Linked DNA regions of Homo sapiens: region 1 is linked to region 2. A link means that fine-mapping ties the variant in region 2 to the expression of a gene that starts in the linked region. Tissue or cell type: whole blood. Region 2 holds a variant in brackets; the other region holds the start of a gene. All regions are shown on one strand. Distances are from middle to middle.

Region 1 (8,102 bases), 160 kb before region 2:
ATCCCAGCACTTTGGGAGGCTGAGGCAGGCGGATTGCTTGAGCCCAGGAGTTCGAGACCAGCCTGGGCAACATAGCGAGACTCCATCTCTATAACAATATAAAAAATTAGCTGGGCATGGTGACATGCACCTTTGGTCTCAGCTACTCAGGGGGCTGATGTGGAAAGGTCACCTGAGTCTGAGAAATAGAGGCTGCAGTGAGCCATGATGGTGCCACTGCACTCCAGCCTGAGTGATGAGGGTGAGACCCTGTGTCAAAAAAGAAGGAAAGAAAGAAAGGAAGGAAGAGAAGGAAAGAAAGAAAGAAAGAAAGAAAGAAAGAAAGAAAGAAAGAAAGAAAGAAAGAAAGAGAGACTTAGAGGTAGCCAGGGAAGACACCATATGCAGAGGTGGGTGATAGTGCAGAGTTGAAAGGGCAAGAAAGGGCATTTTGAATGATACAGATGATGCTAAAATGTTGGGAGGTATAGGGCAAGGATGGGCTACATTATGAACAATTATTTGCAGGTTCTTATTACACGGCATACGTTACATTTCCAAATTTAAGTTATAGACTAACATCTTTACTAGAATGGATTTTTAGTAGGTAATAAAATTAGTATTCTCAGGATTTCAGGTAATAGTGACAGAAAAGGGAATCAGGGAGAGGAGTTGAGAACAGAGGTGGCTTCTTGCTGCAATGTTGCTCTCTGTCCCTACTATACCCCACTCACAACTCTGTCAGGGACATATTGTTTCCTCCTCAAAGTTAGAGTGTGGCAACAAATTATAAGACTGGACAGTAGAACGACCTGGAAGAGAATTGGCAGAATAGAAGGATGGTGGATGATCAAAAGAGCGAAGCAGTGAGTTCATTCCTGGACACTGCCCACATGAAAATGGGATTTGGGAAAGGTTGGCTAAAAGAAGTGGTGACTGATCTTTGGAAGTATGGTGAGGACAGTGAGTCAGAGTTACTCACTTTATCAGCGCAGGGGACCATGTGGGTTACAGCTATCAGATCTTACTGTGGGTAAATCCAATAAAGAGCTCTGTTGCTAAAATTGAACAATTACAGTGTTTTTCTAATTTCCAGGAAAAATGGGTTTAAAGGTTTTCATTTTGTGAATTATTATTAATTTTTTGGTACTTCCTACCTTGTAAAAAAGTTGCAAATAAATTTAAAGAGAAAAACACAGACATATTATTTCTTAAAAACACATTATTTTTTGGCTGGACACAGTGGTTCACGCCTGTAATCCTGGCACTTTTGGAGGCCAAGTTGGGTGGATCACATGAGGTCAAGAGTTCGAGACCAGCCTGGTCAACATGGCAAAACCCCATCTGTACCTAAAATACAAAAATTAGCCAGGGGTGGTGGTGTGTGCTTGTAATCCCAGCTACTTGGGAAGGAGGCTGAGGCACAAAAATCGCTTGAACTCGGGAGGCGGAGGTTGCAGTGAGCCGAGATGGCACCACTGCACTCCAGCCTGGGTGACAGGTCGAGACTCTATCTCAAAAAAAAAGAACAACAACAACAACAAAAAGCCCCCATTTTTTTATTATGTGATTATGTGGAGATTTGCATAACCATAAAATTGCCAGATTTAGTGCTTGTAAAATTGTGTCAATTCCATATGGCAGAGTTAAATCTATCTGTATTTCATGATGCTCCACGTTGAGCACCATAATTTCTAGAGACTGCCACCTGAACTAGTTTGAAAACCAACATTACACCCCTGACTGCCTTTTGTTATTTCTCAGAGAAGGAATGTTATTAGCCTCAGTGGAACTCGCAGGGAAAGGCTTAGATAGAAAGTAATCTTAAAAAAAAAAAAAAAAAAGACCGAAGGAGAATTAAATAGGGTAAATTCAAGTGTAAGAAGGATAACATAATAGCTCCTGTTTCCTGAGTCCTTATTGTGTAACAGGATTTGTGCTAAGTATTTTCCAAAATTTTGTTTCATCTTTACATCCATCTGTGAGGTAAGTATTAATATCACCCACGTTAGACAGATGAAGAAAGGAAGGTCCGGAGACCTGTTCAAGGTCACACAGCAGGTAAGTGTTGGGTGACACTGAGATTCAAACTGAGGTTTTCCGACTGCAGTGATGATGACATTGTAATGCTTCTTTGTGTGTATGTGATTTTAAAAAACTGACATGAAGTGCACAGATCTTTTTGCATATGTATACACCCGGGTAACCATTAAGATATTGAATATTTCCAGCAAACCAGAAGGCTCTCTCCTGTCCCCTCTCAATCAATTCCCCTGTAAGTAATCACTACCTTGCCTCTAATACCATAGGTAGATGGGTTTTCATTAGATTAATCTAACTTTCTGGAGTTAACACCAAAAGATTCCATATGTCAGCCCTTCACCTTGCCATGTTAGCTGTATTATTCAAAGCTGCTCTAGCTCTGACTTTGCAAGCATTCACTGTAAAGAAGAGCTGTTGGATGGACATGTTCATATCCAGTTTCTTGTATTGTTCTGAAATTAATACTAATTTTTGAAAATCGAAGAAACTCCTGGATGAAGTGCTACAGGATGGGGCAGATTAAAGTGCTGTTATCAAACAAACCTCTCTACCTTGGAAGCGCCACAGACAGAGCTTCCTTGATTGATGTAATTTGGCGCATCTATTTCCAATCATGTCATCTGATTAAGAAGTTGGATGACCACGAAAGGTCATCTCAGTTTATGGAAGGGAAGGCGAGCCGGGCAGAGTTGGTAACGGTGATTGCTTCGCATCATCTTGCAGCACGCGATGATGTTTATGTCCCAAATACCTCCCACAGCCGACTTGCTGTTTTATGATAGGAGGGAAACAGTAGAGGGGAAGAAGATCTAGGTGGAGGGTGAAATATGACCTAACATCGTTCGACGAGGTATTAATGTGGTGGCTTTCCCGCCCTTGTCGACCAGCTCTTAAAACCACGCTACTTCTTAGTCAACCTGGCAGTGACAGAAGCAGCGCCACGACTTTACCTCAGGTTTGCAAGCTGTGGTTGGTGAATTTTCAGCCATTATTCTAAATAACAGTCTCGGTCTCCCCACAAACCCCACTGTTGTTTTGTTTTTCTTTCTCATTCTGATTCTCCCCACAGCCAACCGTGGCCTTTTGAAGTCGTCTACAAACTACCACTGAGAATCCGGGAAAGAATAACTGACACTTGTAGGCTTCGAGGACTCTCAGAGTGATATGTGCCTGAGGTGACCGAAGTGGGGGAGATCTAGGAGAGCATTCCGGTCATCAAAGCAGGAGGACAGGCCCTGAAATGGGCGCACGTGACAGCAGCAGCCACCTCGAGAGTGACATCACCCCTGAGGGCGGAGCCCAACTATGTAGGGCCTTGTCAGTTACCGAGCGTCCTCCCTGCTGCCCCTCCAAATGCCACCCACAAGTCCGAGCCCCCCGGGGATACGAGAAATGCCAGGACATCCCAGAGCGCCAGAGCCAGGGCCCCGTCTCTCCGCGCGGAGGAGGGCTGCGTCCCCACTCCCTCTTCCAGCCGTTCCCCACCCCCAAACTGTGGAAGGGGCGGGGGCGCGCGCGCTCCACCACGCACGCGCCCCCACGCACGCGCGCTCCCTCCGCGCTCGCGCCCCTCCCCACCCCAGCCCGGAGGGGGCGGGGCTGCGGGCGGCCTCAGAGGGTGCGACGCCCCCAGCGCGGCGGCGGCGCTAGCGAGCGGCCGGCGGGGCGCGGGTTGCTGGGCGCGCTGCTCCGGCGGGGCCCGCTGGCACAGCCGCCTCGCGCGAGCCGCCCGCCCGGCGGGGGAAGCTGCGAGCGCTCCGAGCGCCCGGCCTAGGGCCGCTGGCGCTGCCCTCCCGCCGCCACCGCCCTCCGCGCCTCCTTCGGGCGGCCCCGCCCCCATTCCCATCCCCCTCGCGCTCACCTCCCGGCTGTGCCGCGCGCTAGGCGGAGCGAGGCGCCCGCCGCCGCCGAGCCGAGCCGAGGGGCGAGAGCTGGCCCCCGAGCCGCCGCTGACAGGAGCACCGCCGCGGGCTGCGCTCGCCGGCTGCGAGGCCCCGCCGCGCCGTTCCGGGGTGCAGACTCGCCGCGGGGCGTTGGAGGACTGCGAGGTGCTCCGGGAATCGCGGGCGGCGCCGGCGGGCGGCGCGGTCCTCACAGGAGACCCCGGGGACTGGGGCTTGACCCGGAGGTGCAGAGAGCCCCTCAGAGCGGCAGGTAAGGGGCCCGGGGAGCAGGGCGAGGAAAGGTCGCTTCAGTGACAGGGTCGTTCGCCTCCACAGCCTCGGCTCCGGGGAGAGGGGCGGGGGCGAGCGGGGAGACGGCGAAATGGGCAGCGAAGTGCCTCGGTGTCCAAGGCGTGGGGAAGGCTGGCTCCGAATATGACACCAAGGCGGGCTTCAGAGGCGTGTGGGGTCGCCACTTGGCTGTCACCGAAGATGTCATGGAATTTGGTACCTAGAGCGTCTCTGGATGACGGGGACCAAGGATAAGATGCGAGGCGGATTGCTAAACGTGGCAGGGAATGTGGTGCAGAACGAGTTGCAAAATGTGCCCCCAGAATGCAGCATAAAAGTAGTTGCGAAATGTGCCAGGTAAGGCACAGGATGGGCTGGCCTCTGTGGCGTTGAAATTCATGGTCGAAGTGTTATTAGCGATATTAATAATTCCTCTGGGAAAGGAGGTGTAGCATAATAAAAGATTAATAAGGCTCATTGCTAGATATTTTGCCATAGGAAATCGGGAGGAGCTATGATAAGCTATTTTTTTTGAGGTAGAGAAAGTAACCACGTGAAAGAAAAAAAGCAAATTGTGTCTGGCTGTGAGATTGGAAAGAAAAAATAGGGCTAAAATAATTCCAGGTTTTGCCATCAGCGTGTAGAGCATTGGTACAATTGTATCCAGTCTTCATTTCCAGGTGTGGAATGTTTAGAATGGTCTTCACAAAACATAAACAATGATAATTAACATTAGGAAGAAGATTTGGTGTTTCGGGTGTCTTTCACTCTCTTCTCTGCTCCTCTCCAGGAAAAGAAACAAACAAAACCCCAAACGTCTTGACCATAATTATGAGTTAAAGATCATTAGGCAAAGGGAAGTATTTTTCGTATGTGCCCTTTTCCTGATTTTTACACAGGTGAAAATATCTGTAATGAGGAAAACAAAGCAGTGTGGTGAACAAAAGGGATAGATTTTCAGGCATTTTGAGGGGTTGGAGCCAGTATCTATCACAATGGTTAATTATAGAGAACGGCAGTACTAAAATATTCTTGTATGTTCTTGGTGTTGGGATGGTGAAATAAAAAAAAAAAAGAATACAGTAAATTGGCATAAAAAGCAACAACATGGATACTGTCAGTGGAGTGCTTCTTGCAGCATTTCCCAGGTAGATCCTCTTAGGGATGTGAGCACGAAATAAAACGTTAAACATTCTCTTTCTCCCTCTCTCTTGCTCCCCTCTGTATCTAGATATTTATTTATGTCTCTATATAGATATATGTGCATGTATATTATACATACATAAGAAATTACCAACATGCTGCAAAACATTGTGACTTCCATTTAAGAACATCTGTTTCGAGAGGATTGTCAGAACATAGCTGGAATTTCAGAAGTAACAAAAGACAACTCCATGATCTATTTAATGTAACTTATATGTATACATACAATGAGTGTGAATATACTATATAACAAAAGCAGAAATATGGAAATGTGTTCGTTAGAATGTACTTAATTATTGATGAGATTTTAATGTTTTATGTTATAATTCTTGTAAAGAAATTAAATTACATGTGTGAATGCTGTTCTCATTATAGTAATTTGCCAGATAATCTGAAAATTCATACTGATTGGCTTTCCCTTAGATCCAAATTCAGCCATTGAGGGATCATTTGCTTCAAAGACAAAAATAGATTTTCCTTGGTGATTGATTTTGGGTTTTAGTCTTTTCTGTAGATATGTCCCTTACCTTGAGAAGCTGTTGGGGCTGAAGAACAGAGGAAAGGGCCAGAGGAGAATAAAGAGAATTCTGTTGGGTCTTCCTGTTTTGTTCTGACTGTAAGCCATATGTACTGCCACCCCCTACTGTCTGTAGGAAGAGGTGTTACAGAGCCCGATTCTTTTCTTGTTATCACTGCCCCCTTGTGTAAGGGAAGAAATTGATAGTTGCGCTCGGGGAACCAGTCCTCTCAGATTGTTCTTGATAGAGTATTATGTAGATCTGTGAATCACCTATTTTCTTCAGAGTTGAAGGGCTTTAAACTTACTGTTAATCAGGCCTCAGATTTGGTGTCTATTTTAAATATAGGTAGCATTTGATGTTAGGAATTCAGATTGCTTAAGAATGTTTTTGGTACTTTCAGGAAGAGGGTGCAATACAATTACTACTACATTCTTCCCTTATTGTATGCAGGGGATTGGTTCCAGGACCCCCACATATGCCAAAATCCTTGCATGCTCAAATCCCGCAGTTGGTGTATGGAACCATGTATAGGGAAAAGTCGGCCCTCAATATACTCGGTTTTTGCATCCCATGAATACTGTATTGCTTGAAAAAAATCTGCATAGGAGTAGACCAGCACAGTTTAAGCCCATGTTGTTCAAGGGCCAGCTGTACTAGTAGTAACAGCTCACATTTATGTAGCACCTATTCTTTGCCAGTCCCGTTGTACGTTGTTTTAATCAGTTCCAACACCCTATGAGGTATGTGTTGTTATTTCTGTTTTACAGATGAGAATCTGAAACACAGAGAGGTTAAATAACTTGCCCAATACTATATAGCTGAGAAGTAGAAGAGCTAAGTTTCCATTTAGGAATGCTAGCTCCAGAACCTGTGCTCCTCATCAATATGCTATATTGCCCTCTCACTCAAGGTAGTATTGGCAAGGCATAATTAAAATGCATGTGCCCATCATAAAGCAAGTACAATAGATGTGGATAAACCTGGACAACTCACATAGATGTTAAGTCTGCATATATACAAAAGATACAGTTATTTGCAGTGTGAACATTTCTCTTTAGGAATTTGTTTTTTAACTTATTTCTGGGATTATGCGTAGAGGAGTATTAGTACTTTTTATGTGGTTAAGGAAATATTTGTGATGGTGGTTGGTTTGAAGGGAACTTCAGAGGTAAAAAGTTAATTTCAAGTAGTTTAATATAGTGTGTGTGTGTGTGTGTGTATATAAATACACATTCATACACACACACACAGCCTTTTTAAGAGCACCAGTAAACCTTTACTGCTTATTTTCTGTAGGGAAATTAAGGATAAATTACAATATTTTTCTTCCTACTCATATTTTTATGACCTCTTTTTCATTTATATTAAAAACTACCATAATTAGCACAAATGGATTAGATGCCTATGTACATTTTACCTCTAATGTCAACAAATGTTTGTTCAGATTTTTCTCACACTTAAACATTGTTTTATAAGATATTGACCACATATGACAAAGTATTTATAAAAATGTGTAAAATATAAAGACTTCACAATGCAGCCAACACTTACATGCCTTTTACCCAGTTTAAGAAATGGAACATCATCTTTCACAATTATAATAGTTATTTTCTTCTCTTAGCCAAATTGCTTCTGCCATTCTTTTTCAACAGAAACCTTTCCTTATTGTGCTGCGAATTGCATATCTCATGTAACCAAACACTTCCCTTTTTATATACATTTGTTGATATGGGAATTCAATATAATCTACTGCTTATGGCTAAAACTTATTCAGCATATATGCTTACGTAATTTAATATATTTAATAAATTGTCATACACTCAGACTATGCTTTGTATTTGTATTGGTTACTGGTTGGTAGTTCATTTTAGCATACTTCACTTGTAAAACTTAATTTGGTTTGCAAATTAGGATTTTACTAACATTGTTAAACATTAATAGATTATTTCCCTCTTCCATCATGAATTCTTGACTGTCCCACGCTAGCTCTGTTTTTTCTTCTTTTCCCCATAACTGCCTTTGCTCTTTATTTCTTAAGTGAGTATGAATTATTTTGAATGGAGAGGGAAGGAGACCCTAGAAAGGAGTATACTAATCCAGTCATTTCAAAGGGGACTATTAGGGTAGTTGGTACTGATTGAATATATGGTAGAACAAGTGTGCATAAAAGAAATGCATGAAA
Region 2 (8,107 bases):
CCTGTAGTCCCAGCTACTTGGGAGGCTGAGGTGGGAGGATCGCTTGAGCCCAGGAGTTCTAGGATGCAGTGAGCTGTGATTGTACCACTGCACTGTAGCCTGGGCCACAGAGTGAGACTTCATCTCTTGCGGGGGGAGGGGGGAAGAGGGGGAGGGGAGGGTGCATATTTCCCTGGAGAAAGAGATTGAGAATCAAGAGGCAAGGATGAAAAACTCAATCTGGTTGAATCTGGAAGGCTTACTCAGTTCAAAAAAGTGAATAGTGGTTTGAAGTTGAGTTAAGCTGTAGTGGGATGAGAAAGGAATATTTCATGTCGGAACTAGAGAAGAATGATGATAGAGAAACGGTTTAGCATTTTAAAGCCTGAGAAGTCCTACAATAAAGGGAACTTTTTAATTGTTTAATCTAGCATCTCTAAAACTTGACAGCAGACACTTTATTTCTTACATGCCCCTGCAAAACCATGTGGAACAAGTAAGTGTTCCAAGGAGCATGCTTTAGGAAATAACTGACCAAAGAAAGTTATGTCATTTAGAAGGAAAGAAGAGTGGTTAACTGCACAAAATGAAGTATGAAAGAAATCATCTTAGCACTCCAGAAGATATGGAAACATGGCTGGGTCTAGTGGCTCATGCCTGTAATCCCAGCACTTTGGGAAGCCAAGGCAGGTGGATTACTTGAGGTCAGGAGTTTGAGACCAGCCTGGTCAACATGGTGAAACCCCGTCTCTACTAAAAATACAAAACTTAGCCAGGCATGGTGGTGCATGCCTGTAATCCCAGCTACTTGGGTGGCACAAGAATCACTTGAAACCTGGGAGGTAGAGGTTATAGTGAGCCGAGATCACACCACTGTACTCCAGCCTGGGCGACAGAGTGAGACTGTATCTCAAAAAAGAAACAAAACAAAAACAGAAGATTATGGAAACATAATTTACTCAGATTCCCCAGATAAATTATACTTTGCTTTAATATTTTAAAGATGAGTGTGTTTTTTAAATTGGAGAAAATATTGTTTATTATGTAGACTAGAAAGTAAAATGGTAAAGTGACTTAAGTAAAATCTCAGAAGCAAAAGTGTACAAAATGCATTCAAGTGGTAAATAAATCAGTTTGTCTGGAACAGAGGTTTCATGAAGGATGCTCTGGAAGAGACAACTGGGACCAAAATGACGAAGCCATTAGGGCAGTGATAACCTAACATGGTAGCCATGGAAAATGTATAAAGAGAAAAAGATTTTGGAGGAATAAGCAGATTGGTGACTGGCCAGCTATAGAGTACAGGAATATGAAAGATCTGCCAAAGATGATTATACAATTTTAAGAAGAAAAATGATGGCTTTGCTAATAGGAAAAGCTTAGACAGATAGCTGATTTTAAGAGATTGATAGACATTGAGTTCAGGGTGGTAGGACGATATAAGAGGGGAAATGTGGGCCAGGCGCGGTGGCTCACGCCTGTAATCCCAGCACTTTGGGAGGCTGAGGCGGGCGGATCACAAGGTCAGGAGATCAAGACCATACTGGCTGGCGCAGTGGAATCCTGTCTCTACTAAAAATACAAAAAAAATTAGCCAGATGTGATGGCTGGCGCCTGTGGTCCCAGCTGCTGGGGAGGCTGAGGCAGGAGAGTTGCTTGAACCCGGGAGGCGGAGCTTGCAGTGAGCCGAGATTGCGCCACTGCACTCCAGCCTGGGCGACAAGGTGAGATTCTGTCTCAAAAAAAAAAAAAGAAAAAGGGGAAATGTGTTTTCAGCACTTTGAAAATAAGTAAGGTTTTAAGCTGTAAATTTGGAAGTTATACCCGTAGAGAGTATAGTTAAAACTGTAGAGTAGGTAAAATCTTTTTTTTTTTTTTTTTTTTTTTGAGATGGAGCCTCGCTGTCACCCAGGCTAGAGTCCAGTGACACTATCTTGGCTCACTGCAACCTCTGCTCACTGCAACCTCTGCCTCCTGAGTTCAAGCAATTCTCTGCCTCAGCCTCCCGAGTAGCTGGGATTACAGGTACCTGCCACCACGCCCAGCTGATTTTTTTTATTTTTAGTAGAGATGGGGTTTCACCATCTTGGCCAGGCTGGTCTTGAATGTCTGACCTTGTGATCCACCCGCCTTGGCCTCCCAAAGTGCTGGGATCACAGGCATGAGCCACAGCGCCCGGCCATAAGGTCTCTTTAGGATGCGAATTGAACAAATAGAAAAGGTAGAAAGTAAATATTTCATAAGAATTTACGAGGAATTTTCATGTTTACTCATTTTGTCTTTTCGTTGGCACTTTGAATTATTATGGCCCTAATCTTATTTATGAAGAAAACAAGACCTAATCAGGCTAACCATGAAGAATTTAGGCATAAGAGATCAGAGCTCCAACTTAGACCTCTCTCTAACTTCAGTATCTGTTCTCGGGGATCAAGAAGTAAATCTTAAGAAATACAACCTAAGGGACCAAAAGAGAAAAACCCACTTTAAAAAACAAATGAGATGAATAAGGAGCAGTATGAAAGATATTGAAGGAACCAAGATGGTGTAACTTTTGCTGGAAACTGAGGCTTGGAACCGTTTGAGTGACTAGGATCATGATTTTCTTGACATATGATTCTGCCTTTTGCTCTCCTGAACTGTAGTCCAAACTCTTAGCTGCAGTGGTCTACATTTGGCAAATATTTGTATTCTGTTTCATTAAAGAGGAGAAAGAAAGAGAGAGGCTACATAAAATCGGTGGGAGAAGGAAGCATTTAATGAGAAACTTACAGTCAAATACACTTCTTAGAGTTCTAATTGCTTTTTGGTGTCTGTGATATATAGTCACATGTAGCAGGGATCCCCAACGCTCAGGCTGCAGACTAGTACCAGTCCGTGGCCTATTAGGAACTGGGCGGCACAGCAGGATGTGAGCCTGCAGGCGAGCAAGCATTACTGCTTGAGCTCCGCCTCCTGTCAGATCAGCAGAGGCACTAGATTCTCACAGGAGCATGAACCCTATTATGAAATGCACATCTGAGGGATCTAGGTTGCTTGCCCCTTATGAGACTCTAACGCCTGATGATCTGAGGTGGAACAGTTACATCTCAAAACCATCCCCACCCCCAACAAAAATTGTCTTCCGCAAAATGGGTCTCTGGTGCCCAAAAGATTGGGGACCACTGATACATAGGACTCTTTAAGACTTTTAAAAATGAAATGTTTCTCTTTCTCCATTCAACATCCTTACTCCAGTAAATTTCTCGTTAAGATAGCTGAAAGGATCCCTAAAGCAGTTAACTGTTTTACCTTAACTCCTGCAATATGATGTAATAGTTCAGATCCTGCGCTTACTAGCAGTGTGACGTTGGGCAAGTTGTATAACTTCTCTGTGCTTCAGTTTCCTCATCTGTGAAATGAGTATAACAACTCCCTTAGGATTTGTAAGAATTAAAGGAATTTTTACAGGAAAAATGCTTACAACAGCCTCTAGTACATAGTAACTGTCCAATAATGATAGTTGATGATGATGCTGTCACTTAATAGCAACTGCATGATCCTATGTATCTCTCTATACCTTTCTTTAAAGTCCTGTGTACTTTTCCTTTTTTTCTTTGTTGAGAAGGGAAGCCGTTTTTTACCTTTACTAGGTAGGCTGAGTTTTTTAAGTGAGCAGAGAGTAGTTACAACTTGAATCAGAAGGCTTAAATTTATATGACAATATAAACATGCCTGGATTTAGAAAACATCTTGCTGTCAAATGGATACTGGTGGTGTCCTCTCCTGATAACAGTAATATTGTAACCATTAATGTTCAGAGTATTTCATTGTGAGTTTATATTACTTCCTGTGGGAACTGGTTTCATATTCAGTCCAAAACACTTGATAAGTATGTAGTTTCTCCTTCCTTGTTTTATTTAAAAGAACCCTTTACCAAAAAAGTATGATAAATATATTGTCACATTGTTATGATATAATGAGAAGCTTTGATATAATTGTGGTAAAATTATACATTCAGTACACAGCAGGCCTTTTCATCTTAGCATTTATTACAAATTTAAGTTTTAAATTAGTTAGCAATATAATGTAGCGTAAGCTTATCTTACATAGTTTGTGTACTCTGGAGCCAGACTGCCTGGATTTGAATTCTGACTGATATGCCTTACTTCTGTGTCCTTGGGCAAGTAACTTAACCTCTCCCTCAGTTTCCGCATCTGCAAAAAGCAGGTAGTAATAGTACCTACTACTTCCTAGGGTTATTATGAGGATTACATGAGTGAATGACTTTGAACAGTTTTGATCACAATAAGTGCTCAATTATTGCTGTTATTATTTAGTATTTGTGTGGTTTACGTCTTGTCTCCCTAAAAGGGAGAGAGAGTATTTGTCCTTTTTATTATTATATCCTCAGTCTTTAGCACAATGCCTGGCATATAGTAGATGTTCAATAAATATTTACTGAATAAATCAATAAAACATCCTGCACTTACCTAGAGCTTCAATAATATTCTTAGCTTGAATGCCTTCGGCTAAGCAGGCCAAAGCAGATAACACTATTATGATGTTAAGAGCCTTTACTCACTAAGGTTTTTTTAGTGGGGGGTTTAGTTGTTGCTGCTGTTGTTTTTTGACGGAGTCTTCTTCTGTCGCCCAGGCTGGAGTGTAGTGGTGCAGTCTCGGCTCACTTGCAACCTCCACCTCCTGGGTTCAAGCGATTCTCCTGCCTCAGCCTCCCAAGTAGCTGGGACTACAGGTGCATGCCACCACACTGGCTGATTTTTTTATTTTTTAATAGAGATGGAGTTTCACTGTGTTGGCCAGGCTGGTCTTGAATTCCTAGCCTCAGGTGATCAGCCTGCCTCGGCCTCCCAAAGTGTTGGGATTACAAGCATGAGCCACCATGCCCGACTCACTAAGGTTTTATTAAAGTGAGATCTTGAAAATTTGTGACTCACTGTTTTATTTATTGATCAGACTTGTGATGGTAAACACTTTACAACTGAGGCTAGAAGTAAGTATGACACATGAGTCACGTTCCTTTTACCTCCCCACCCCCCACTGATTCTTAGGACTCTAACAGTATTATAGTGCCTAGAAAAGAAAG[A/G]AATAGCTCTCTTCATGCTGATTTTGACCTGTTTTTAAAGCTTATTACTGAAAGGTTATAATGTAAAAGGTACTGCTGATATATAAGGTACTGCTTACCTAAGCCTGAGGCTGGGGACATACTGCAGTTATGACTAAGTTTCTCATTTTTAAGTACCAAAAAATGGACAGATTTAGCTTGTCAACACTGCGATTAAAATTTGCTGTTTTTTCTTGTTATTACCGCTGGGTATTCTCTGTTGTGTTCAATAAGGAATTCTTCTTATGGTACTAAATGTCTAATATTTTCTACCCTTCTCCATTCTGGGGATAAATCATTGCTTTAATGAACCATTTTTGTAGATATATTAATGTCTAGTCTAGTTTATACTTATTTTAAATGATATTTCATTTGTTTATACAATGTGACATTGAACTATGAGCTACCTCTTCTACTTCTAACTTAATTTTAATTTGACTTTAATTCTAATTATATAATTTTTCCAGATTATGCCTTGGATTTTGAAAAGACATTTCTTATCAAGGTTCATCTGTCCAAAATAGTTTTATGTTTCTCTTATGCTTTTGACACTTTACTTCCCAAATCATTTATTATTGAGAAAATAGCTAGTAAAATGTCACAAAAATTGTATAGATTAGAGACTGAAATGTGACAAAGTAGAAATGATTTCTTTATGAAAATCTATTCATGCTTTAATTTCTTACTCCATCATGGTCCTTTCAGTTATGGGCACTGGCTCTCATTAGTCACCATAAGAAACTGGCAGGATTTTATACTCTGCTTTATTTCCAAATCTAAATATTGACAATTAGTGCCTTACAAGCATGGTGGCATATGAAAATGTTGTTAGACTTCTCAGACCTTTCTCATTTTATTTGCGTTCTGCATATTACCATGCCCTGCACACTGTGAGCTAACTCTACCAGTTAGAAGAGAAGATTTCTTAACTGACCTTCCCCTAATCACTTGCAGGATTAAAGTTTTCATTCCCTTTGTGACACCTACTGACTGTTGTCAGGACAAGATGTATATTAGAGGCCAGTAGGCTACCTTCTAATGCACCTGGGTACTTCTGTTATTCCTGTGGTGGCCTGTGCTTACTTAATGAGAGGCAGTTAAGTTAATGCCCATTGTACTTCTTATTATGATAATATAATTAAATTATGTATATGTTAGATACAAATACAGAAAGAAAGCACCTATAAAAGAGTTTCTAGGAAAATTATGTTAAAAGCTTTGGAAAAACTCAATATCAATAAAAGTAAGGTGCTAAAAAAATGCTGTAACTGGATGACTACTCAATAATAATTGTACATTTTAAAATAACTAAAAGAACATAATTGGGTTGTTTCTAACACATAGGATAAATGCTTGAGGTGATAGATACCCCATTTATCCTGATGTGATTATTACACATTATATGCCTGTATCAAAATAACTCATACGCCCCACAAATGTATATGCCTACTGCGTACCCCCAAAAATTAAAAATAAATTTTCAGTGAATTTGGGTGAAGGTATTTTAAAAATCTGTCTTTACTTAGGTTGTCTAAGATTTGGTTTATTTTGAAAAAATTGACTAGATTATACATTTTAGTGCAGTTTACACAAAAAAGAAAAGTTGGAATTCATATTCAAACAAAAGGCCTTGGCCTTACAGCAAGAGTTTGTTTAATAAATGTACATTTATATTTTAAGGGAAAGTGTTTAATACATGTACCAACTTTTTCTTTGCTCATTTGCAACATTTTAGAAAAACCAATCCGCTACTAGTCCCTGTCGGTGTAGGATAAGAGGACTTCTGTATATATTACCTTCATATTTTTCGGTAGCCCTGACCAAGTTTGGGAGAATCCTGAGAAAAACCACAAATTATTCTCAGGAGAATTTGTGGAATAGACCTGTGAATTATGGTCTTGTCTGTATATGACTTAGGTCAAAATTTAATTGTGAGTGGAAATTTGTGTTTAGTAACGTGTCATTCCTATCTGTTGAGCCTACTAAATGCCCTCTCAAACTAGAGAGCTATGTGTAAAGAATCTTATGTTCTTCTTGGTTCAGTTGCATACTTACGGACGGTTTATAGAAGTAGTTAAGTAGCCAGACTTTGTGGGGTTTTTTGTTTGTTTTTTTGAGCCAGGGTCTCGCTCTGTCACCCAGGCTGGATGGCTCACACTGCAGCCACAATCTCCAGGGATCCTCCCACCTCAGCCTCCAAAATAGCTGGGACTACAGATGCTACACCATGTGTCCGGCTGATTTTTTTTTTAATTTTAACTTTTGTAGAGATGAGATCTCACTGTGCTGCCCCGTCTGGTGGTAAACTCCTGGGCCCAAGCAGACCTCCTGCCTCGGCCTCCCAAAGTGCTGGGAATACAGGCACCATGCCCAGCAGTACCTAGACTTTGTAGTAAGACATACAAGGTTCAGGTTCCAGCGTTACCACTTATTAGCTGTGTGAGTTTTTTACATGTTATTCACATTTTCCAAGTTTCAATTTCCTCTCTTATAAAATGTGCATAACAAGAGTAGCTACCTCATAAGAATGTTATGAAGATGAACAGTGTATGTCAAGTGCTTAGCAATGTGCTTAACTCCTGAGGTCAGGAGTTTAAGACCAGCCTGGCCAATATGATGAAACCCCATCTCTACTAAAAATACTAAAAATACAAAAATTAGCTGGGTGTGGTGGTGCACACCTGTAGTCCCAGCTACTTGGGAGGCTGAACATAAGTAGCTGTACATGAGAACAACTATGAGCAAGAAAGTTGGCTTCATATCTATAGTATTTTACCTGTTGTAATGATGAGTCCAATTAGATTAGAAAAATAAATTATAATCACCACCTTATATTTTCTTTATAGTAATCTTATATATCTATACAGTTATAAAATAAGAAATTGTGTGCATATGATGAGCACTGAATATTACATCATCTGTGTATGCTCATAGACATTCAAAACTTTTAAGTGATCTTTATTATTAATAATGTAATAATTTTGAAAACTTTTATAGAAGTATGTGATAGATTTACTAAAGTACACT

Evidence for each region. PIP is the estimated chance that this variant, and not a neighbour inherited with it, causes the effect.
Region 1: it holds the start of TANC2, and the variant in region 2 is fine-mapped to the expression of TANC2 in whole blood (TOPMed, PIP 0.97).

What each region holds. Positions count from the first base shown.
Region 1 is chr17:62,962,574-62,970,675 of GRCh38, forward strand. TANC2 (tetratricopeptide repeat, ankyrin repeat and coiled-coil containing 2) reads left to right here and starts at 3,662. Exons shown (of 28, transcript NM_001394998.1): 1 at 3,662-4,176. RefSeq lists a silencer at 3,549-3,738.
Region 2 is chr17:63,121,841-63,129,947 of GRCh38, forward strand. All of the region lies in intron 4 of TANC2 (tetratricopeptide repeat, ankyrin repeat and coiled-coil containing 2), which reads left to right. Among named protein-coding and RNA genes, the nearest start is that of TANC2, 160 kb to the left of the region's middle. The variant A/G (reference allele first, on the strand shown) is at 5,063.